Linked DNA regions of Homo sapiens. The protein of the gene in region 3 purifies or fractionates together with the protein of the main gene of each other region. This does not show direct contact. Each region holds a gene or a part of one and is shown on either strand. Other genes may lie near its edges.

Region 1 (7,112 bases), on a different chromosome or scaffold from region 3:
CCCAAAAGTTCCTGAACCACCATTGTTAGCCCATTTCGGGCAGCAACATGCAGAGGTCTAGGGGAAAAAACATGATACATGTACACATATGTGCATGTGCATGCACATACACATACACACCTGGCTGTCAAAGAGCATTTTTGTCAACTTGTGAAGACCAAGAGGTACAAACTCGAGAAACCTAGTCCTAATAACAAAGATGGGGGCAGGGAGAGCAGAACCTCTGTGCAGTGCACTGTCACACCTTGTCAACGTGTAGCTCGGCATCAAGCTCAGCCATAGGTCCCATCGACAGGTCCCTACCTTCACCCAATCCTTTTGTTACTTTTCTTTTCAATGTTTAAAAACATTTTACCATTGAAATTGCATTCCTCCGTTGTTAAGGAATGAGGCTGGTAAAGATACAGACTATACATTAAAAACTGTAAACTGCAGTAGCATAAATTCTAATAGGCTTTGAAAACAGCTTACAAGCATCATGACTAATTTTTGGACCTTCAAGGGATCTGACTAATCCCAGAACGGGCAACAATATTCTAAGATTTTTATCTTTACTAAACCTCAAAATGGAATAGCAAGGGACAATGAGAGACACTGATGTAAGATCTCTGTCAGTCTATCTGGAGGTTGGCTGCTCACATTATTAAAAATTTTGATTCTTTAAGAAACCTTATTGGCTTACAGACACACATAAAGCTTCTTACCTCATTTATTGTTAGTTTCAAGTAACATATTATTACAGTTGATTTCCACAGAATACACAAAATAGTACTACTTTCCTTCAGAAAATTAGGTAGGTGGATTAAGGAAAAAAATACATTATTGTCAATGTTATAATAAAATTTCAGTTCAAAAGCATTTTAAATAATATGGCTTTTAGTTGTGATCATTTTAGAAATGAGTTTTGACAGTTGTAAAACTATTAAAATTGCTTCTATGACTAATGAAACCTATTCCAATAGTCACATGTTTAAAAAAATCCATTTATCATTTTTATAATTATAGGTCACAAAGTTTATACTAGATACTGACAGTACTCACGTTTGCAAGGCTGCGTTGGTTGCATTGATGAGGTTTCTATCTGTTATCTTTTCCAGTATTAACAAGGCACTAGTTTCATGACCCTATAATTGTGGCAGATAAGTTATAAAAACTTGAGCACCATTAAAGATACATTTATACACCCAACAATCTGCAATCCTAGTCCATATATTATGTACAACACCATACATATACCATGAATTTTCCTGGCTAATATCTTAATATTTGCCCAAACACATCTTGGGAGTGAGGGTAGGAGAAGAGGACAAAATTAAGATTAAGGAAAGAGGATAATTATGCTTAGACTTGTGTTCCAAAACTTATTTGGCTTACTGGAGACTTTGATACGCCATGGTGCCTTATAAGTCAATTTTGTTCAAGAAATCTAATACCAGTGATCATTAGAGAGGTTTGGTCCTGAGTTGTTCATTTTAGTGAAGTCAAAAAACTTTTAAGGTCACTGTTAATATTAACAATGGAAACATATTCTTAAGATGTATACATACCTTGCTACAAGCCAAATGGAGGGCAGTATTTTTACTGTTATCTTGTAAAGTCAGTTCTGCACTAGCACTGCTAACCAGCATCTCTGGGAGGAAAAAGTGCATCAATTCTTATGTTTATGAACATGTTTCTTAGATTACCAATAACTCACTGTAGAGAAATGAAGATACAAAGCAAAAAAGTCCCTCTCACAAAAACTTAAGTACAAGAAAAATATTGTAATATATAACATATATATCTTCATATAATTGTATGAGACAATTATATTGTTGTATAAGTCACACACTCTAACAATGGCAATTAACATTTATTTTGTGACTGTGCACTAAATTTTAAATACTGTTTTATATGCTCTGGATTTAAAGTAATTTATTTAACCCTCACAACAACACACCAAGTAGATACTGTTATTTTTCTCATTTTATAAATGAGAAAACTGAGGCATAAGGTCATTTAGCTGAAAGATCTAGGACTCACATTCAGGCAATCCAACTCCACAGCCAGTGTTCTTAACCACTATGTTATAAGGCCATGGTAAAGTAGACTCCTCAATAGTCAGGGCAAACTAAAACATTGTATCCCTAAATGAAAATGTGGATTGCAAACAGGTAAAAGGTTTTAAGTCTTAGGAGTGGTAAGATAACTAGTTGAAGTCAGAAGTCTTGGGATCTAAGTTATACATAAGTGATACACATACTTAGGAAAATACAATTTTAAAGAAGTTTCTTTACCAACTGTATTTGTTTGTCCATTTTCTGCAGCCATCATAAGAGGTGTTTTCCCTGTAGAGTCCACAGAATTGACTTGAGCATTATGGCTGAGCAGCAGCTGTAAACACTCTACATGGTCTGTGAAGGCGGCTGCATGGAGAGGAGTTCTGTGATAAAGAAAAATTGAAATATATGACTAAATTTGAATGTTATATATGCTGGAAAAATATTCTTTAATTTGTGACATGCTGTTTTTAAGGGTTTACATATTAGGCTACAAAAGCACTGCCTGTACACAAACAAATAGGCTCAATGGAGCTTACTAATTTCTCTCATAGAAATTTGTACTTTCAATAATACAGAAGGCTTTAATTAAACTAGAACTAGTATGAAGTAAAGATTAATTACAAAATTGCTAAAATAACATTACATCATTAAAGGAAATTTTGAAAGAAATAAATCCTAATCTGAATACCACCACTTATTACAACTGCTGGACTTTTTTCCAGGCTTTATTCCCATTTAGAAAACTGTTAACTTTGTTAACAATAATCTTTGGGAAACAAATTCGAAAGAGAGGGAAAAATATTTACATGTTAAAATAGTTTAAAGGAGGAAAACTTCCTAAAATCTATAAATAGAAAAACCTTTTATAATGTAAAAATAATTGAGATCTTATAACAATTTATACTCGCAAATATAAAAATCAACTTTTAATAATGGGTTTTCTGTAAATTCTCTCACACCAGCCAGTAGTTAAAATTTATTTCTTATTGAAAATAAAACCTTTTTGGGGGGTAGGGCCCAGACGGGATCTCACTCTGTCACCCAGGCTGGAATGCAGTGGTGCAATCATAGCTCACTGTTGCCTCAAACTCCTGGGCTCAAGTGATCCTCCTGCCTCAGCCTCCTGAACAGCTGGGATCACAGGCATGCATCATCATGCACTTTTTTTTTTTTTGGTAGAGATGCAGGTCTTGCTATGTTGACCAGGCTGGTCTTAAACTCCTGGCTTCAAGTCATCCTCCCACTTCAGCCTCCCAGATTGTTAGGATTATAGGCATGAGCCACTGTGCCTGGCTAAAACTATTTAATACATAGTTGAATTCCTACCTTCCTTTTGAATCTGTGGCGTTCACAATGCTGGCACCTAATGTATCAATTAACATCTCAGCAGCACCTTCGTTGTCATTTATCCTGTGTAAGGTAACAAGGTGATCATTCTCACAGCAATGGTGTATTTCTTAAAACACTCAAACCAAATCTGATTCATTCTGGCTTTACTTACACGGCACAATGCAATGGACTAAAAGCATTTCCTTCCGTTTTCTGGAAAACTTCCTGTTCTAAAAGCAGTTCTACACATGTCTCGTGACCTAAATAGGTGTAAAGAACCAGGTATTAAAATTCAAAGGAGATACTGGCAAAAATCACAGGTACATGTAAGTGTTTAAAGGAAAAATGTAAAAGTCTCTCCCTCATCCCATCTCCCAGATCCCCTCTCTGGAATATAACCATTGGTAGCTGTTAAGCCACCAGTAGTTCCTGAAAATTTCTAGGCATATACAACTGCACGCACAAAATACATACAGTTGGCTCTCTGTATCCGTGGGTTCTGCATCCATCAATTCAACCAACCCCAAATTAAAAATATTTGGGGGAAAAAAAAAACAGAGCAGACTTTTTTTCTTGTCATATACCCTAAATACAGCATACCAATTATTTACATAACATTTACATTACATTGGTTATTATAAGTAATCCAGAGATGATTTAAAGTATAGCAGAGAATGTGCATAGGTTATATGCAAATACTATCCCATTTTCTATAAGGGACTTGAGCGCCTGTTGGTTTTGGTATTCACAAGGGGTCCTGGAAACCAATCCTCAACAGCAAACGAGAAATGACTGTGCTATTTTTTTATTTTTTTCTTAATGGCAATGGGATGTTTAATTCCGCAACTTGCCTTTTACTTAATATTAACTACACATATCCTTCCATAATAGCATATATGAAATATTATTATTATTATTTTAGATGGAGTCTCACTCTGTTGCCCAGCCTGGAGTGCAGTGGCGCGATCTTGGCTCACTGCAACCTCTGCCTCCTGGGTTCAAGTGATTCTCCTGTCTCAGCCTCCCAAGTAGCTGGACTACAGGCGCCCACCACCATGCCCAGCTAGCTTTTTTCGTATTTTTAGTAGACACGGGGTTTCACCATGTTGGTCAGGCTGATCTCAAACTCCTGATCTCAGGTGATCCACCTGCCTCAGTCTCCCAAAGTGCTGGGATTACAGGTGTGAGCCACCATGCCCGGCTAAAATCTTATTCTTTAATGTTCTGAAGAGCTTCACAGTATCAAAGTATATCATAAATTATTTAATCTAATTATGGATTTTAAAGTGATTGCTAGTTTAAAAAAATTCTTCATGATATTATCAACAACGCTGTAATGAAACATTCTGGTATTTTTTTATTTTATTAAAACAATTTTTTGAGACAGGGTCTTGCTCTGTTGCCCAAGTTGAAGTGCAGTGGCATGATCATGACTCTCTGCAGTCTCAACCTCCTGGGCTCAAGTGATCCTCCCACCTCAGCCTCCTGAGTTGCTAAGACAACAGGTGCAAGGCTACCACACCTGGCTAATTTTTTGATATTTTGTAGAGATGAAGTTTTGCCATGTTGCTCAGGCTGGTCTTGAATCCCAGAGCTCAAGTGATCTGCCTGCCTCAGCCTCCTAAAATGCTGGGATTACAGGCATAAGCCACCACGGCCAACATTTTGTTTTTATTTTAGGAAGTATTTTTGTAGGACAATTTCCTACCAAAGTGATATTGCTGTGGTAAAGGAGAAGTATCCAGCCTTGGTATTCTTGGGGGATTGGGTCCAGGACTCCCCACTGACAGCAAAACTCCATAGTCCCTTATACAGGTCCCTTGTACAAAATGGTTTATTTGTGTATAACCTATGCACATCTTCTCATATACTTTAAGTCATCTCTAGATTACTTACAACTTAATTCAATGTAAATGCTATATAAATAGTTGTTGTATTGTTTAGGGAATAATGACAAAAAAAAAGTCTGTACATGTTCAGCCTAACTATATTTCTGATGGACATTCAGTTGAATTCACCGATGGGGGACCCATGGATATGGAGGGCTGACTGTATTGACTGTTCATCAATATCTGGTCCATAGTTTTTAACAGTAACTTCAAAAACAGAAAAATCCAAATTTCAAATTTTCTTACCCTAATTCCAGAGCCAGGGTTTTAATTTAATACCCTAATTACTACAAATAAAATGTTGCTTATTTTATTTCATTAGTCATTTGGGATCTACTTTAGGAATAAGATTCTTACATGGCCTCTTTATACATTTTCATGGTTTAATATTTGCCTACCAAAGTGATGTTATATTTTCTTTTCTTTTTAAATTACTCAAACTTAATCAGCTTAAACTTTACCCTATAATTGTGGAAAAGTAATTTTTAGAAAAACCTGTAATTGTGTTCCATCTTTTGTCAGTTCTTTTCTCTAATCTAGTAGTTTTCAAGTGGATTTTGCCCATCAGCAGATATTGTATGTGGCAATGCCTACAGACATTTTTGTTTATCACAACTGAAGGTGGGGCAGTGCAACTGGCATCTAGTGGGTAGAAACCAATGATGCTGCTAAACATCTTGCAATGCACTGGAGAGTCCCTTGCAACAATCATCTGGCCCAAAACGTCATAGTGCTGAGGTTGAGAAACTCCTTTAATGCCATCGTTCTGAATGTTAACTCATTACTAAGATACAGCAATGGAAAGTTGTCCATTGTTGACTTAAGAGCCCCTCATTCTCCAGGTATATGGGTTCTTAAGGTGTGGCCTAGGGAACCCTGGGGTGACGCAAAAAAAATATGAATAAAAACACAGATGAGAACCCAACTATTCTCTTAAATTAGCTATGAAGAGATGTACTACTCTTCTCACTAAAAAGAAAATACTTTTGGAAAATAGTTTTCATAAAAAAAGATTATTTATGTTAACATGTAATAGACATTATTTTTAAATAAATCAGTAAGTATTTAAAAATTTCTCAATTACAATTTCTAATACAGTCAGTATCAATCCATAGTTCCTGAGACCAAAGGGTTTGAGAACCACTCACCATCTGAGTACAGACTGAGAAAAGGGAACAGTGGGGCCCCTTTGTGACCTCCAGAAATCATTACTGGGTGATATCAAGCAGACAATCTCATAACTTTCTATCATCATTTATGAAAGATAGATAGGATGGTAAACTGGGTCCTCCTGAGTTTCAGAGGCTAGTCTGAGGATGTTTAGAGCTTCATAAAAATGAACACATTTTTTAAAGGAATAATAAGTATTCTTAAGTTCTGTGATTGAATGACTATATAAACTGAAATTGTGAACTTTTAGTATCTACAGCCAGTGTTTTTCTAAAACTTGGCCATCATTTCATTTTAATTTTAAGAGGTTGTTTTCTGTTCTGTTGGCATGCTTCCACTTTTCTTTCCAGCTGTACAATAATTACTAGTTAAAGTAAAAACCATTTTACATATTCTACTTTCAGAATGCCAAATTATAAAACGGGCTTTTGGCTATAAATATGGTATTAATTTTAGGCTGTCTATATAGTCGCTTATTGCATATAGCCAACACACATTAAATTCCTTCCAGCTCAAATTCAGCATCACCACAATTTTGCTACAGGCTGAAAATCAGACACATTTGTTATGATCTTTAAATGGCAACCAGGCATGCAGTTCTTGCAAAATTCTGTCTCTTGCACAAAACGTGCTTAGAGTCTAAATTTAGCAGTGATAGAGTAGGAACTCACTTTAGGGAAAA
Region 2 (7,143 bases), on a different chromosome or scaffold from region 3:
CAGTTTTCTCTACCCTAACAACCCCAGTGCAATAATTCACAGCACCATATAACTGTGGGATGCCGCAGAATGGGATGCAAACAGAACTGGACTGAGAGTCAGTAATATCTAATATGGGAACACCAGGAACTTACATGTATACCCACATGCCCCTCAGAACAACCTACTCAAGTACCTAGAACAGAGTTTTTGTTCTAGTTTCAAGAGGAAGCCGCCAAAATTCCACAAGTCTGTCTTTTTATGATTTTGGCTTTCTTGATAAGCACCTTGAGGTAAAATACAAAATTATTCCTCTTTGTATAAGGCAGCCAATCCCTTGTGGTACCTTGTAGATAATATTCAAATCTTTGCTGAGTTCATTAAAATCCTGTCATTTGTTAGATAAATGGTTTTAATTATTAGCTTATATATAGATGACAAAAAAAAAATCTCTAAATCTTGACCAAGTTCTCCAAACTTCAGTCCTGAATTTCTACCTACTACTAGCTATATCCACCTGGTTGTTTTACAGGTACCTTAGAGTTAATAACCCCGAACTGAACTCTATCTCCCCATTGACACTGACTGTGAAATCACTCTAAAACCCTGTCTCTTTTCTCCATGTTCAATATTACCTTAGTTTGGGCAAAAGTGATTTCTTGCTTGGATGCCTGCACTGGTCTTCTAACCCCTGGTCTCTATTCTTCCAGAGTCTTTTCCTGCCATCTCTTATACCCTATGCTGCAATTACACTGACTTTACATAGAAGGCTCAATCCCCCCAGTTTTCAAGGCCCCCAGATTTCAAGCTTGTTTGCCTGGCATTCCATCCCCCAGTATTACTGGTGAGGCAAACTCTTGCCATTGCTGCAAGAACCACTACTGAAGGTAAAACTGACTATGTAACTCCCTCTTCTATGCCATCACTGTACTTTATGTACATCAGCCTACCCAGCTCTCATTTCTCCACTCACCAACATGTATCATAGAGTTTTACAGTTTTCAGGTTAACATTATTGAAGAAACACAATCAAATTACAACTGATTACCGCCGTCCCCTTAAAGAATTAAAAAACCATTCTCTTTGGTCCAAACAACAACCAACAACTGGCTGCACGTGTCCTTTCCAACCTCATTTCCCACTACCTCCCTTAATATATACCATTCTTACTAGCTAACTGTACCAGCCTGTTCAACAGAAATCACTTCTGTCTTTCTTGCTTACACTGTCCTCCCCACCTGAAATGTCTTCTGTCCATATTCCCCACTTAAAATATCATCTAGGCCTAGCACAAATGTCATTTGCTCAGCAATCTTCTCCGTCCTTCTTAGTTTGGGAAGTAATCTCTTCTTATGAGCTCCTTCCTACAGGACCACAGTAAGAAAAATCTGTTACTGAGTATTCCTTTTCCTCACTAGACTGTAAGCTCCTCGAAGGCAGGATCAATATTAAAATTATCTTAGTTTTTGTCACTGCAGCATGTTATACATAATATATAGTTGACAAGTACTTAAAAAATGAATTGTTGGGCTTAGCAAATCAAACACACAATGGACCTCATTATAATGAATAAGGTATAAGAACAGTACTGGTTACATGGATATGAGTCCGAAGCGTCACAGTGTGACAGCCTCTTAAAGCCTGTTTCTTCCTTTGATTCATAAGATCAATGTCAACAAAGCCACAGGACTCATTTTTTTTTGGCTTCTAAGGCAATTTATAAAAGCTCTTTCAGTCATGCTTGCATTACCTTCAACAACTACCTGTCGTACACTCATATGCAGAATATTGTGGGGGTGGGCCGGGCACAGTTGCTCACTGTAATCGCTGCACTTTGGGAGGTTCAGGTGGGCAGATCACTTGAGGCCAGGAGTTCCAGGGCAGCCTGGCCAACATGGCGAAACCCTCTCTCTACTAAAAATACAAAAATTAGCGGGCGTGGTGGCCCGCGCTTATAATACTTGCTACTCAGGAGGCCGAGGCACCAGAATTGCTTGAACCAGGGAGGCGGAGGTTGCAATGAGCCTAGATTGAGCCACTGCACTCCAGCCTGGGTGACAGAGTGAGATTCTGCATCAAAAAAAAAAAAAAAAAAAAAAAAAAGAATATTGTGGAGGCTACAAACTTTCATAAAATACTATCTCTACTCTTCTAAGGCAGAAAGGGTTTTTTGATTTTATTAAGTGCCACCCTACCTAAAGTTATTTGAAAACCTGACAATACAGTAATAATGATTACAGCTACATACATTGAGCCATTATGTGCCGGGCATTGTTGTCTGTAGTTTTAACATATTGAGGCATTTAATCCTCCCAATAACCACGTGAGATGAACTAAATATTGTCCCCCTTTACAGATGATGGCAACTGAGGCAAAGATTAAGAAACTTACAAAGGTTTCATAATGTAAGAAGTGGATTTTGAAGCCAGGGAGTGGTTTGGTTTCCAGCTACACTGAGAAAAGAGACCAAGTCTTAGCGTATTTTTATCTCATAAAGAATCTAACATCTGTTTTCATGTAAAGTTCCGAAAAGACTGCACTATGCTTCATGCACTATGCTTCAGGAGTGAGGAGTGGGTAGAAAAAGCGGAATAGTTTTAGGTTTTAGTCACTCCAAAACATGATTCTGTACGAAAGAGTAGGTACTGCAAAGGTAGTGGCATACACATCCACCCCTGGACCATTTTCCAGCCGCCCGAACACCTTCCAGATCCTCGACACGGAGACCGGCTCCAGGGCCTTTATCTACCTGCAGGTAAACTGTCCAGGAATCGGGGGACGCAACCCAATCTGCAGTGGTAACGGGACCTCCCAGGTACCCTGGGGATCCCCCACAGGCGCGTGCTCTACCCAAAGCCGATATCCGCCAGGCGGGCGAGTCCGAACGCGACTGACAATTCCTTCTCCCCGACCCTCGAGAAACTCACGCCCCGCCCCTCAGCCGACAAAGCGCGGTGCCCCTCATACTTAGAATCTGCAGAGAACACAGCTCTCCTAAAGTTCAACTCGCTGCCGCCACAACGAACCACGCGGATGTTCTCCTCCTCCACCATCTTTGCGCAGTAGCGGAATGGCCAATCTCTGGTCCCGCCCTGAACTTCCTTCGTTGAGCCGGGTAATAAGGCTGTTCCCAGCCCACAGAACCCACCCCCGGGCCCTTCTAGGCCTGAGACTCGGTGGTAGGACTCCGCTTCCGTGCAGGCACCTTTTGTGTGGGCAATGTCAAACTAAGACACTTGTAAGAAAAGGTGAAAGCAAAACAGAGATTTAGAGACAATCAGTTTTTATTATATACCTATACACAATTATTTAATACAGACATATTTCTCTCAGGCCTTGTCAACCTGACTCTATGGCTTTTTCCGCCAGAAGGGAAAGGTGGCGTATAGTGTACCACGTGACCTCCAGTCGTCCCACCGGAGGCGTCGCTTTCTAGTGTCTGTGGTGTCGGCGCTGCAGGATGACGCGAGCCTCTCGCGTCCCTGGTTTTCTCGGTCGCAGCGTTGAGTTATTGGGTGGAAAGGTAGCTTTCTCTTCCTTGTACAGCTTTTTGTTCCTCTCATTAGCCGTTCTTCTGTTCTTGTGAACATCGCTTAGGTTACTACAGAATCTCCACAGTCCTAGGGCCTAGCTTTCTTCCTTTGGAAATCTGGCTCCTACTCCGGGATTCTGGTGCATCTTCCGCAGCGTTCAGTGTAGCTGCTCGGGCTAATCTGACATTCGGCCAGTCCCGCCAGGTTTCAGGGCGCTGGTCTCTGGTTTCCTGAGTTTTACCTTTTCCCATTAGTGAATAGAATCTGTGGGTTAGGAACCCCTAAAATCTCAACATGTTTATTTTTGCCAGTTTATCTCCAGTTTTCCTTTGTAAACTTACACGTATCATATTCTTGGACCCTGTATATTATGTTGCCTATTTTGATTTCGCTTCTTGATTTGTGGATTTACCACAAAATTACCAAGGTCTCAAATATAGTCACATGTCACATAAGGATCTTTCAATCAATGCATATAACATGGTGATTCCGTAAGATTATAATACTGTGTTTTTACTGTACCTTTTATGTGTTTAAATACACAAATACTATTCTGTTACAATTGCCTGCAATATTGAGTACAGTAACATGTTGTTCAGATTTGTAGCCTAGGAGCAATCAGCTATAACGTACAGCCTAGGTGTGTAGTAGGCTGTACCATCTAGGTTTGTGTAGGTACACTCTGTGATATTCACACAATGATGAAATCACCTAAAATGCATTTCTTAGAACATATCCCCATCATTAAGCCACACATGATTATACCTATAAGTTTATTTATGGTGGAGAAATACAATATTCACAAAGGTCAAGACATATCCTGGGACAGCACCACTGTAAAAATCAGGGATAAATTTACTTTTTACTGAGGAGTCTAGCTTATTAAAGTGCTCAAAACTTTATTATTTGGGGAGCCAGAACTAGAAAGGGAGATATTTAATAATTTTGGTTTATCTCAAGCTGTAACCAGCTTTCTCTTTCATGACTGTGATACCCTTTGTCACAGTGGATGGAGTGTAAAATATCACTTTTGATTCTGCAGCCTTAACCTCTTTTTGTTTAGTCTCTTGATGTATGCACAATAAATCTTTTAAAGACTTTGTTGGGTACTTTGTAACCTGATACAGGCTTTTCCTTAGGGCCTGAGCCAAGAAACAAAATAAATATTTTCACTCAAATTAGTGTGACTTTAGTTGTATGTTACTGTATGGTAACTTTAGATTTTTCAGAAAAGAATCAGAAATCCTGATATGGACAAAAACTAGCTGGATTGATAAATGTATAGGAGGATTATTTTACACAGAGTTTTAATTTACTGAAGTGCCCAGAAAGATAAGTCATTTGTATTTTGATTTCTTTTTACATAATTTTTAAGGAACCAATCCCACCTACAGCTGTTTAATTAATAGTGCGTTGTCTTTATCATGTAACAAGAAGGCTGAGGTAGGCAGAATAGGGCTAGTGCAGTGGATCATTCATGCCACCAGGGACCTGTGCTTTCTCTACTTTGTTCTTTGTGTTATTGTCCTTAACCATATTGGTTTTGTCCTTATGCTCACAGTTCATGTTCCTTTCAGTTAGAAGAAATAAGGGAATAGCAAGAAAGAGCATAGCCTATATACAGAAGGAAAAGGATTTTCCAGAAACACTTATTTGGCATCTTCCATCCAGGAAATATTTACTAAGTGCCTAGTATATGCCAGACATTCTTTCAGGCTCTGGGAATACTGGAGTGAGAAAAATAGTTAACAAAATCTGTATGTTACTGGACCTTACCTTATCATGGGAAGAAACAAAAACTTATTATACTTTTGATGTATTTATGTGCCAAGGGGAAACTCAAAGTAGAAAAGAAAGTGATTATAAGGGTTTGATCACCTTTATTATGGGTTTTCAGGGAAAGCCTTACTGAGAAGGTAACATTTGAAATAACCTGAAAAGGTTGAGAGTGTGAATAAGCATGGAGCTGTTTGGTGAAAGAGTCAGCCAGAGGAAAGAGTATTCCTTTCCATGTTCAAGATAAGTCAAGAGGCCAGTGTGGCTGGAGAATAATCATCAAGGGGGTATAGTAAAAGGTGAGGTCAGAGAGGTAATAAGAGGCCAGTTCATAGGGTCTCCTAGATCATTGTAACAGCTTTGGGTTTTACTCTGAAATTGAAGACAGTGTAGCCTTTGTGTTAAAAAGTGAAACGATTAGGCTAATTTTAAAAATTTACATACAATAAAATCTGCTTTCTTTGATATCTATGATGCACAAATTATCGTATCCACCATCACAAATAGGATACAGAAGAATTCCAGCACCTCAAAGAATTCCCCAGTATTTCTCCTTCCCCTCCCCAAGACCTATCCCCTGGCAACCACTAATGTTCTCCATCCCTAGTTTTGCCTTTTCCAGAAAGCCATGTATAAATGGTATCATATAGTATGTAACCTTTTCAGTCTAGCTTCTTTCAGTTAGCATATTGCATTTATGTTATGTGCATCAGTGCTTTATATTGCTGAGTGGTATTCCATTGTATGGCTATTTCACAGTTTATTTGTTGAATGTGTTTTACCCCCAGGTTTTAGAAATTATGCATAATACTTCTCTAAACATTCATATGTAGGTTTATGTGTGAACATAAGCTTTTATTTTTCTAGGATAAATACCAGCAAATGAGATTGCTCAAATCATAAGTGTATGTTTATTTAAGAAATTGCCAAACTCTTTTTTTCCCAGAGTTACTGTACTATTTTTGCATTTCCATAAGTAATGTATGAAAGTTTTAGTTACTTTACACCCTTGTCAGGACTTGGTATTGTCAAGGTTTTTTTTTTTTATTTTAGCCATCATAATAAGTTTGTAGTGGTATTTCATTGTGGTTTTAATTTTCACTTCCCTAATGACTAATGCTGAGCATCATTTTATATCCTCTTTGGTGAAGTGTCATCAAGTCCTTCACGCATTGCTTTATTGGTTATCTTCTTGTTGAGTTTTGAGCATTCTCTTTTAAAATTTTTATTTTTATTTATTTTTTATTTAATAAAATTTTTAAAAGCTTTCCCATTAGTGAGAAGGATTTAGTCACATTTTTACTGCTTAGTATCTTCATGTATGTTTCTGTTCCCTTCAACAGATATAAACACCATGTACAGTATTTCACACCACTACCCTGCATAATGTACATAGGAGACATCTTCAAGCAGATTACATCGATTTTGTATTAATGTCATGAATTACTTAGTGATAGGCCCTTGGGCTCTGCTATGTTTCCTCATTCCCTAATGATGGTGCAATTTTTATCTCTTCTTAGGTTTCCTATGATGCTGAAATCCTTATCTATCCCATATATTTTTCATTCTGCACTTTCTCTCTTGTATACCTCTGCCCTAGGAACCTCAGGCAGTTAAGTGATGATTATCACAAGCGGGTTATGTTCCATTTAAGGTTAACAGTTCTCATGGTTATAATTACACCTTTTCTGTTTTGGCTATGATTAAACCCATAGATTAAAATTGTATGATCTCTTGTACCCAGTGGCTAAAGCGAAATTTTAGAATGGTTTGAAATGTTGTTGCACAAAGTGTGGTCCGTGGACCAGCAACAGCAGTGTCACCTGGGAGCTTGTTAGAAATGCAGAAACTCATG
Region 3 (7,112 bases):
CGGGCGCAGTGTCTCATGCCTGTGATCCCAGCACTTTGGGAGGCTGAGGGGGTGGATCACCTGAGGTCAGGAGTTCAGGACAGCCTGGCCAACGTGGTGAAACCCCATCTCTACTAAAAATACAAAAAGTAGCCAGGCCTGGTGGTGGGCACCTGTAATCCCAGCTACTCGGGAGGCTGAGGCAGGAGAATGGCTTGAACCCGAGAGGCAGAGATTGCGGTGAGCTGAGGTGGTGCCATTGCACTCCAGCCTGGGTGACAAGAGTGAAACTCGGTCAAAAAAAAAAAAAAGGCTGGGTGCGGTGGCTCACGCCTGTAATGCCAGCACCCAGCACTTTGGGAGGCTGAGGCGGGTGAATCACTTGAGGTCAGGAGTTCAGGACCAGCATGGCCAACGGGTGGTGAAACTCCATCTCTACTAAAAATACAAAAATCAGCCAGGTGTGGTGGTGGGTGCTTGTAATCCCAGGTACTCGGGAGACTGAAGCACAGGAATCGCTTGAACCCAAGAGGCGGAGGTTGCAGTGGGCCAAGACTGTGCCATTGCACTACAGCCTGGGTGACAAGAGCAAAACTCCGTCTCAAAAAAAAAAAAAAAAAGAAAGAAAGAAATAAAACACTGTTTCATAACAGCCTTCTCCAAATCTCCAAATAGTTTTTAACTGAGCAAGGATTCACATCCAGTTGATTTCCACTTCACACAAAAATGACATATTTAGGAAGTTTCCTCTTATGTGACCAGATATTGGACTATCACTTACCCTTTTGAGGCTTATGTTGTCATGTTCATAATTCAGCCGATAGAGAAAAAACCGAGAAACTGTAGAATAGGCTATCCAACTTCCACATGGGGAGATACAGCTACAGATAATGTTCTCAGGACCCTGGCAATATCAGGAATCAAGATGAATGTGCAATTAAACTTCACATAACAAGGTGCACTGGGACATGACGCCTCAAGCTCTTGCCACTCTGGACATACCCACAGATATCTACACATAATCTCGATCCTCGTGTGGTCTGCATTAATATGATTATTTCAGAGGCAGAGCACCTAAAAGGCATGGCTTTGATTTCCAAATCCAAGAATGGAGGTCTATTCTTATTTTGGCCCTTTGAATACTTCATAGATAGCCTCATACTAGACCCCAACTTCAGAAACCTGAGCAGGGAGGCATTTACTGAAGGAAAGCTCTGGAGGATAGGTGGTTTGAAGTACTTATTTTCTGTTTTGTGTACGGCGTTCTGCTTTAAAGACTTCTAAGAAATAGCAAATGAAGAACATTTGAAGGCCAGGTACAGTGGGTCATGCCTGTAATCCCAGCACTTTGGGAGGCTGAGGTGGAGGATTGCTTGAGCCCAGGAGTTCAAGACCTGTCTGGACAACATGGTGAAACCCTGACTCTACAAAAAATTAGCCGGGCATGGTGGTGCACACCTGTAGTCCCAGCTACCTGGGAGGGTGAAGTGGTAGGATCACCTGAGCCTGGGAGGTTGAGGCTGCAGTGAGCCGTGACCGTGCCACTGCTCTCCAGCCTGGATAACACAATGAGACCCTGCCTCAAAAAAGTAAGCAAACAAACAAAAAAACCAACCAACTAACCAAACAAAAAAGAATCTGGAGAATAAAGAAAAGTTGAATGTAACATGTATGTAGTTTTTAAAAACTCACAAAATGATTTTTTTTTCATTGTATACCCTTTTGTACTATTTGAGTTTTTAAAAATATGCACATGGCTGGGCGCGGTGGCTCACGCCTATAATCCCAGCACTTTGGGAGGCCAAGGCGGGCGGATCACCTGAGGTCGGGAGTTCAAGACCAGCCTGACCAACCCCATCTCTACTAAAAATACAAAAAATTAGCCGGGCGTGGTGGCGCATGCATGTAATCCCAGCTACTTGGGGGGCTAAAGCAGGAGAATCGCTTGAACCCAGGAGGCGGAGGTTTCGGTGAGCTGAGGTGGTGCCATTGCACTCCAGCTTGGGCAACAAGAGTGAAACTCCGTCTCAAAAATAAATAAATAAATAAATAAATAAATAAATAAATAAAAGCACATTATTTTCATAATAATATCAAAAGAAGAGAAACCTATTTCCTGTATACATCCATCTAATAAATCCTCAACGTCCTACTTATAATCACAGGAAACCCAGTCCTGGTGACACAGTCCTTCATTCAAATAGTTTTAGAATTTATACAATTTATGATGCAAACTAAGTAACCTCAAAATTCAGAATGGGAATTATGAGCCTAGAATTCAGGCTCTAGAATTCAGAGCCTAAACAAACTTCCTTACCTTTGTCTTTAGGTGCAGTAAATGATCTGCATTTTTAGAGAGTGGAAGAGTATCCCCATTCTTGCCTGAAACAAGAAACTTCCCTGAGATTTTTCTTATGAAAGAAAGAGTATTTGTACATTTTTCTTCTAAAAAGTTACTCCTTGGAAAAATGGAATCTCTATCAGTGGGAAATCAGAAAAATACAAGCTCACTGAGTAAGCTCACAATTTTTGAGGGGTATATGAAGAGAAAGCAGTGAGTACTTCTTTTGCTTCTATCCTCTGATACATCACTAATTCCCTGAAGCTCTAGTCCATAGCCAGGGACACAGGTGGAGTTTGTGTGGCCTCGATTTTAATCCACTGCAAATGAGAGGACTCAAACATTTCCTTAATAAGTCAAAAAGGCCACTAGGCTGTCACTCCAATAAGATCCATGTGATCTTCTTTTTCTACAGGATTATCATTACCCATCATTAAATCTTGTTGTTTTTCAACAGCCTGTTTTCACCTCAGTTAAGCTAGCGCAAACTACGATTCTTCAACCCTTACCTTGACTACACCCTGCAGCGCACCACCTAGAGCCATAAACTTTTAAGAGATGATCCAATATCCTGCTAAAGATTCTAATACTCTAAACAGCTTATTTGCTTTATCTAATGGGTGGGAAAACCATTAGTTAAAATGGACACAAAAGTCTACTTCAGTTTTTCTATAAGCAGAATTCCAACCGCAATTCTGATTTCTGGCTTCTCTCTCCAGTTTTCTTATTGAAAAAAACGTGCTCCCATCTTACCTGTTGCAACTGTGGATCCCAGTCGCCAAAGTTCTAAGTGATGAGCAAACTGGAAGAGGAGAAGCTGCCTCTTTTTAGAACAGGAGATGAGACATCGCTATATCCAAGAATCAAGAAGTTAAAAAAATAAGTCAGGGTCATCTACTGCCTTAGTACCAGATACAGTAGCACCACCTTAGCACATTTTTTACTGCTGAAATCCATTTCCTTGATAAATATTTCCTAAGTACTCCCATATGCCAGGCACTGCCCTGAGATCTATGAAGACGATGATGAATTAAAACATAGCTACTGCTCTCAACATGCTTCTAAAGGGGTGACACAGAATTAAATCAGCAATTAGACTTCAGTGTGCCAAGAATTTTAACACGGCTAAACACAGTATGTACTGAAAAATAAGGAGACAGGACATCTAACCTAGCTGTGTGGTGGTAAATACAGAAGCCCAGATGAGGTTCACTGGGAAAGACCAGTCAGGCGAAGGAGGCAGGGCAGAACATTCTGAGGAGGGTGATGGCATGTGACATAGCTCAAAGGTAAGAGTATTTGAGGGAACAAAAAGACCTTGAGAATGGCTAGCCTGGGTGGGGGTGCTACAAGCACGAGAGGTGCAAAAAGAAGCTGAAGGGCCAGGCCTGGATGGAGACAGGTTCTATAAGACACACTAAGGAAACTGTCTTTATGCTGAAGCCAACAGGGATAACCAGAGGCTTTGAAGCATGGAGTGATGAACAAAGGTGCTTTAAAACAGATCAATGGGCCTGGAGCAGTGGCTCATGCCTGTAATGCCAGCAATCGAGAGGCTGAGGTGCGAGGATTGCTTGAGACCAGGAGTTTGAGACTGGCCTGGGCAAGATAGTGAGATCTTGCCTCTATTAAAAAAAATAAAAAATAAAAAAATTAGCCGAGGCCGGGCACAGTGGCTCATGCCTGTAATCCCAGCACTTTGGGAGGCCAAGGCAGGTGGATCACCTGAGGTCAGGAGTTCAAGACCAGCCTGGCCAACATGGTGAAACCCTGTCTCTACTAAAAATACAAAAAAAATTACCTAGGCGTGGTGGCGGGTGCCTGTAATCCCAGCTACTAGGGAGGCTGAGGCAGGAGAATCGCTTGAACCCAGGAGACTGAGGTTGCAGTGAGCCGAGATTTCACTACTACACTCCAGCCTGGGCAACAAGAGCAAAGCTCTGTCTCAAAAAAAAAAAAAAAAAAAAAAGAAAAACAGAAATTAGCTGAGCCTGGTGGCGCATGCCTGCAGCTCCAGCAACTCGGGAGGCTGATGTGGGAGGACTGCTTGAGCTCAAGAAGCAGAGGTTACAGTGAGCCAAGATTACACCACTGCAGTGCAGCCTGGGTGACGGAGCAAGACCTTGTCTCAAAAAAACAAAAACAAATAAAATAAAATAAGATCAATGAAGAATAGGCTAGAATGACACAAATGCAAATAAAAGGACATGATTAAGAAGCTACTGTAAAGGAACCCAGATGAGAAAAGACACTGATCCAAACTAGGATGATGCCAGCGTAGACAAAGAGAAATGAATGACTCGATTCAAGAGATTATGAGGACTATGTTCAACCTCATCAAACCATATGCATTAAATATGTATGATTTTTAATATATCAAGTATGCCTCAATAGAGCTGTTGATCTATCTATCTATCTATCTATATCTATAACATATGTATAAAGATACTGATGAGTAGACTCAATGAGGTTTACTGCTTGAATGAATGGGGCAGCAGGTGTGGGGAGCAAGTTTTCTAGCTTGGGAAGATGGTACCATTTACCTAGAACACTGGAAGCCTGGGTTTTCCCGCTCCCACCCAGAATAGAGCCTACCCTGAAAGACAAACTAACAAAATTCCCATAACCCACAACTATTTGGAAAAGGGAAAAATTTCCCCAGAAACTGAACTAGGTGTGCTGCTGCATATCTCCTGCCCCCATAAATGTCTTTGCAGTGGCTTGCCTCAAAAACAGAAGGAATGAAGAAGGTAGCTACAGAAAGTCCTACAATATCTCCATGTCCCAGATGGTTAAAAAAAAAAAAAAGGCAGGGGCTGGGCACAGTGGCTCACGCCTGTAAGCCCAGCACTTTGGGAGGCCGAGGCGGGCGTATCACGAAGTCAGGAGATCAAGACCATCCTGGTTAACACAGTGAAACCCCACCTCTACTAAAAATAAAAAAATTAGCCGGGCGTGGTGGTGGGCACCTGTAGTCCCAGCCACTCGGAAGGCTGAGGCAGGAGAATGGCATGAACCTGGGAGGCGGAGCTTGCAGTGAGTGGAGTCGCACCACTGCACTCCAGCCTGGGCGACAGAGAGAGACTCAGTCTCAAAAAAAAAAAAAAAGAAAAAAAAAGGACCACAAAGCTGAGCGTGGTGGCTCACACTTGTAATACCAGCACTTTGGGAGGCTGAGGCGGGCAGATCACCTGAGGTTGGGAGTTCCGAGATCAGCCTGACCAACATGGAAAAACCCAGTCTCTACTAAAGATATAAAATTAGCTGAGCGCGGTGGCGCATGCCTGTAATCCCAGCTACTCGGGAGGCTGAGGCAGGAGAATCGCTTGAACCCGGGAGGTGGAGGTTGTGGTGAGCCGAGATCGCGCCATTGCACTCCAGCCTGGGCAACAAGAGCAAACTCTGTCTCAAAAAAAAAAAAAAAGTCCTACAAATTTGCCGAGCGTGAGCTGTGTTCAGAGCTTGTGGGACAGGGGGACACAGGGATGGGGAGATGAGGGGTTAGCAGGGGCTTGGAATGGACACTTACGTGGGGAAAGGTGATTTTTCGGAGAGCGGCATCGTAATTCTTTACTTCCACCTTCTCCATGAGAGGACGAAAGACTAAGTGGGTGTCAGTGCCTGGGAAAGCAGGGGAGAAGGTGTACAGAATTAGAAGTCATCCTCACGAGAACAGCCAGAACTGGGCAGGGTAAAGCAGCAGCCTCACCAGAGGGGGAACCCACCTCCAGATATCAGCGCTGTTGGGCTGTGGGCCACAGTGCGCACGTCATGAGTGTGATGCTGGAACGGTTTTGTCCGCACCCACTGCTTCTCACTGCTGTTAGATGTCACAGGGACCAGCTGAAAATGGAAGACTGTTCCCTCGGCTGTGCCCACCACGAAACTGTCTTCTTGCTGAGGAATTAAATCATGAGGGAGGTACACGTAAGCAAAACAAGGTCTGGTTGGAAAAATATTCCGAGGCTTTCTGTCTCAGCAGCTTAGGGGTAAACCTATGCCCAGAATCAGTAGGAAAGTTACAAGGGTCTTTTCCTTCCAGAAGCTAAGGATTCCATCAAAGGAGCAAGCTCAGACACTGGTAACAATGCGCCCCCTACTGACAAAATTAACGTCTACAGTACAGCAACGCTTCATATACCCAACATAGATCTCCTTAGAATAGCATTGAGAGAGAGAAAATACCTAGGACCTACTTGAGAAATTTAAATCCTTCGAAAGAACATAAGAGAAAACCTAACAAAGAAATTCATATCATGTTATTTAATACGAATATTTAACATGATCAAGTTATTATCACTAAAGAAATGTATTAAACCAATAAAAATACTGAAAATCCTTTATTTGGAACTAGAACAGGTGTTTCTTAATAACGTTTATTTCATTAAAAATATCCAAGAAACATCAGCCAGGCATGGTGGCTCACTCCTATAATCCCAGCACTTTGAGAAGCTGAGCTGGGTGGATCACTTGAGGCCAGGAGTTTGAGACCAGCCTGGCCAACATGGTGAACCCCGTCGCTACTAAAAATACAAAAATTAGCTGGGCGTGGTGGCGCATGCCTGTAATCCCAACTATTTGGACGGCTGAGGCACGAGAATCACTTGAACCTGGGAGGCAGAGGTTGCAGTACGCCAAGATCGCACCACTGCACTCCAGCCTGGGCAACAGGGCGAGACTCTGGCTTAAAAAAAGAAAAAAAAATGCAAGAAACACCAATAAAAAAGTTTCTTAAATAAACAAGGTGGGCAGAGCAGCACAAACCTGTAGTCCCAGCTACTCAGGAGACTGG

Evidence for each region.
Region 1: the proteins of UTP4 (region 3) and ANKRD28 purify together in Homo sapiens (co-immunoprecipitation; 3 studies listed by BioGRID and IntAct, with this or other methods). This does not show direct contact.
Region 2: the proteins of UTP4 (region 3) and WDR75 purify together in Homo sapiens (co-immunoprecipitation; 4 studies listed by BioGRID and IntAct, with this or other methods). This does not show direct contact.

What each region holds. Positions count from the first base shown.
Region 1 is NC_000003.12:15,675,933-15,683,044, forward strand, and holds part of ANKRD28 (serine/threonine-protein phosphatase 6 regulatory ankyrin repeat subunit A), read right to left. Parts: intron 3,632-7,112; coding exon 3,544-3,631; intron 3,453-3,543; coding exon 3,369-3,452; intron 2,423-3,368; coding exon 2,277-2,422; intron 1,696-2,276; coding exon of another isoform or gene 1,682-1,695; exon of another isoform or gene 1,631-1,681; coding exon 1,548-1,630; intron 1,125-1,547; coding exon 1,042-1,124; coding exon of another isoform or gene 1,038-1,041; intron 58-1,037; coding exon 1-57. UniProt on the Homo sapiens protein: Regulatory subunit of protein phosphatase 6 (PP6) that may be involved in the recognition of phosphoprotein substrates. Involved in the PP6-mediated dephosphorylation of NFKBIE opposing its degradation in response to TNF-alpha.
Region 2 is NC_000002.12:189,437,382-189,444,524, reverse strand, and holds the start of WDR75 (WD repeat-containing protein 75), read right to left. Parts: upstream 3,052-7,143; 5' UTR 3,033-3,051; coding exon 2,947-3,032; intron 1-2,946. UniProt on the Homo sapiens protein: Ribosome biogenesis factor. Part of the small subunit (SSU) processome, first precursor of the small eukaryotic ribosomal subunit.
Region 3 is NC_000016.10:69,149,642-69,156,753, reverse strand, and holds part of UTP4 (U3 small nucleolar RNA-associated protein 4 homolog), read right to left. Parts: intron 6,218-7,112; coding exon 6,046-6,217; intron 5,942-6,045; coding exon 5,850-5,941; intron 3,171-5,849; coding exon 3,074-3,170; intron 2,362-3,073; coding exon 2,297-2,361; intron 884-2,296; coding exon 761-883; intron 1-760. UniProt on the Homo sapiens protein: Ribosome biogenesis factor. Involved in nucleolar processing of pre-18S ribosomal RNA. Part of the small subunit (SSU) processome, first precursor of the small eukaryotic ribosomal subunit.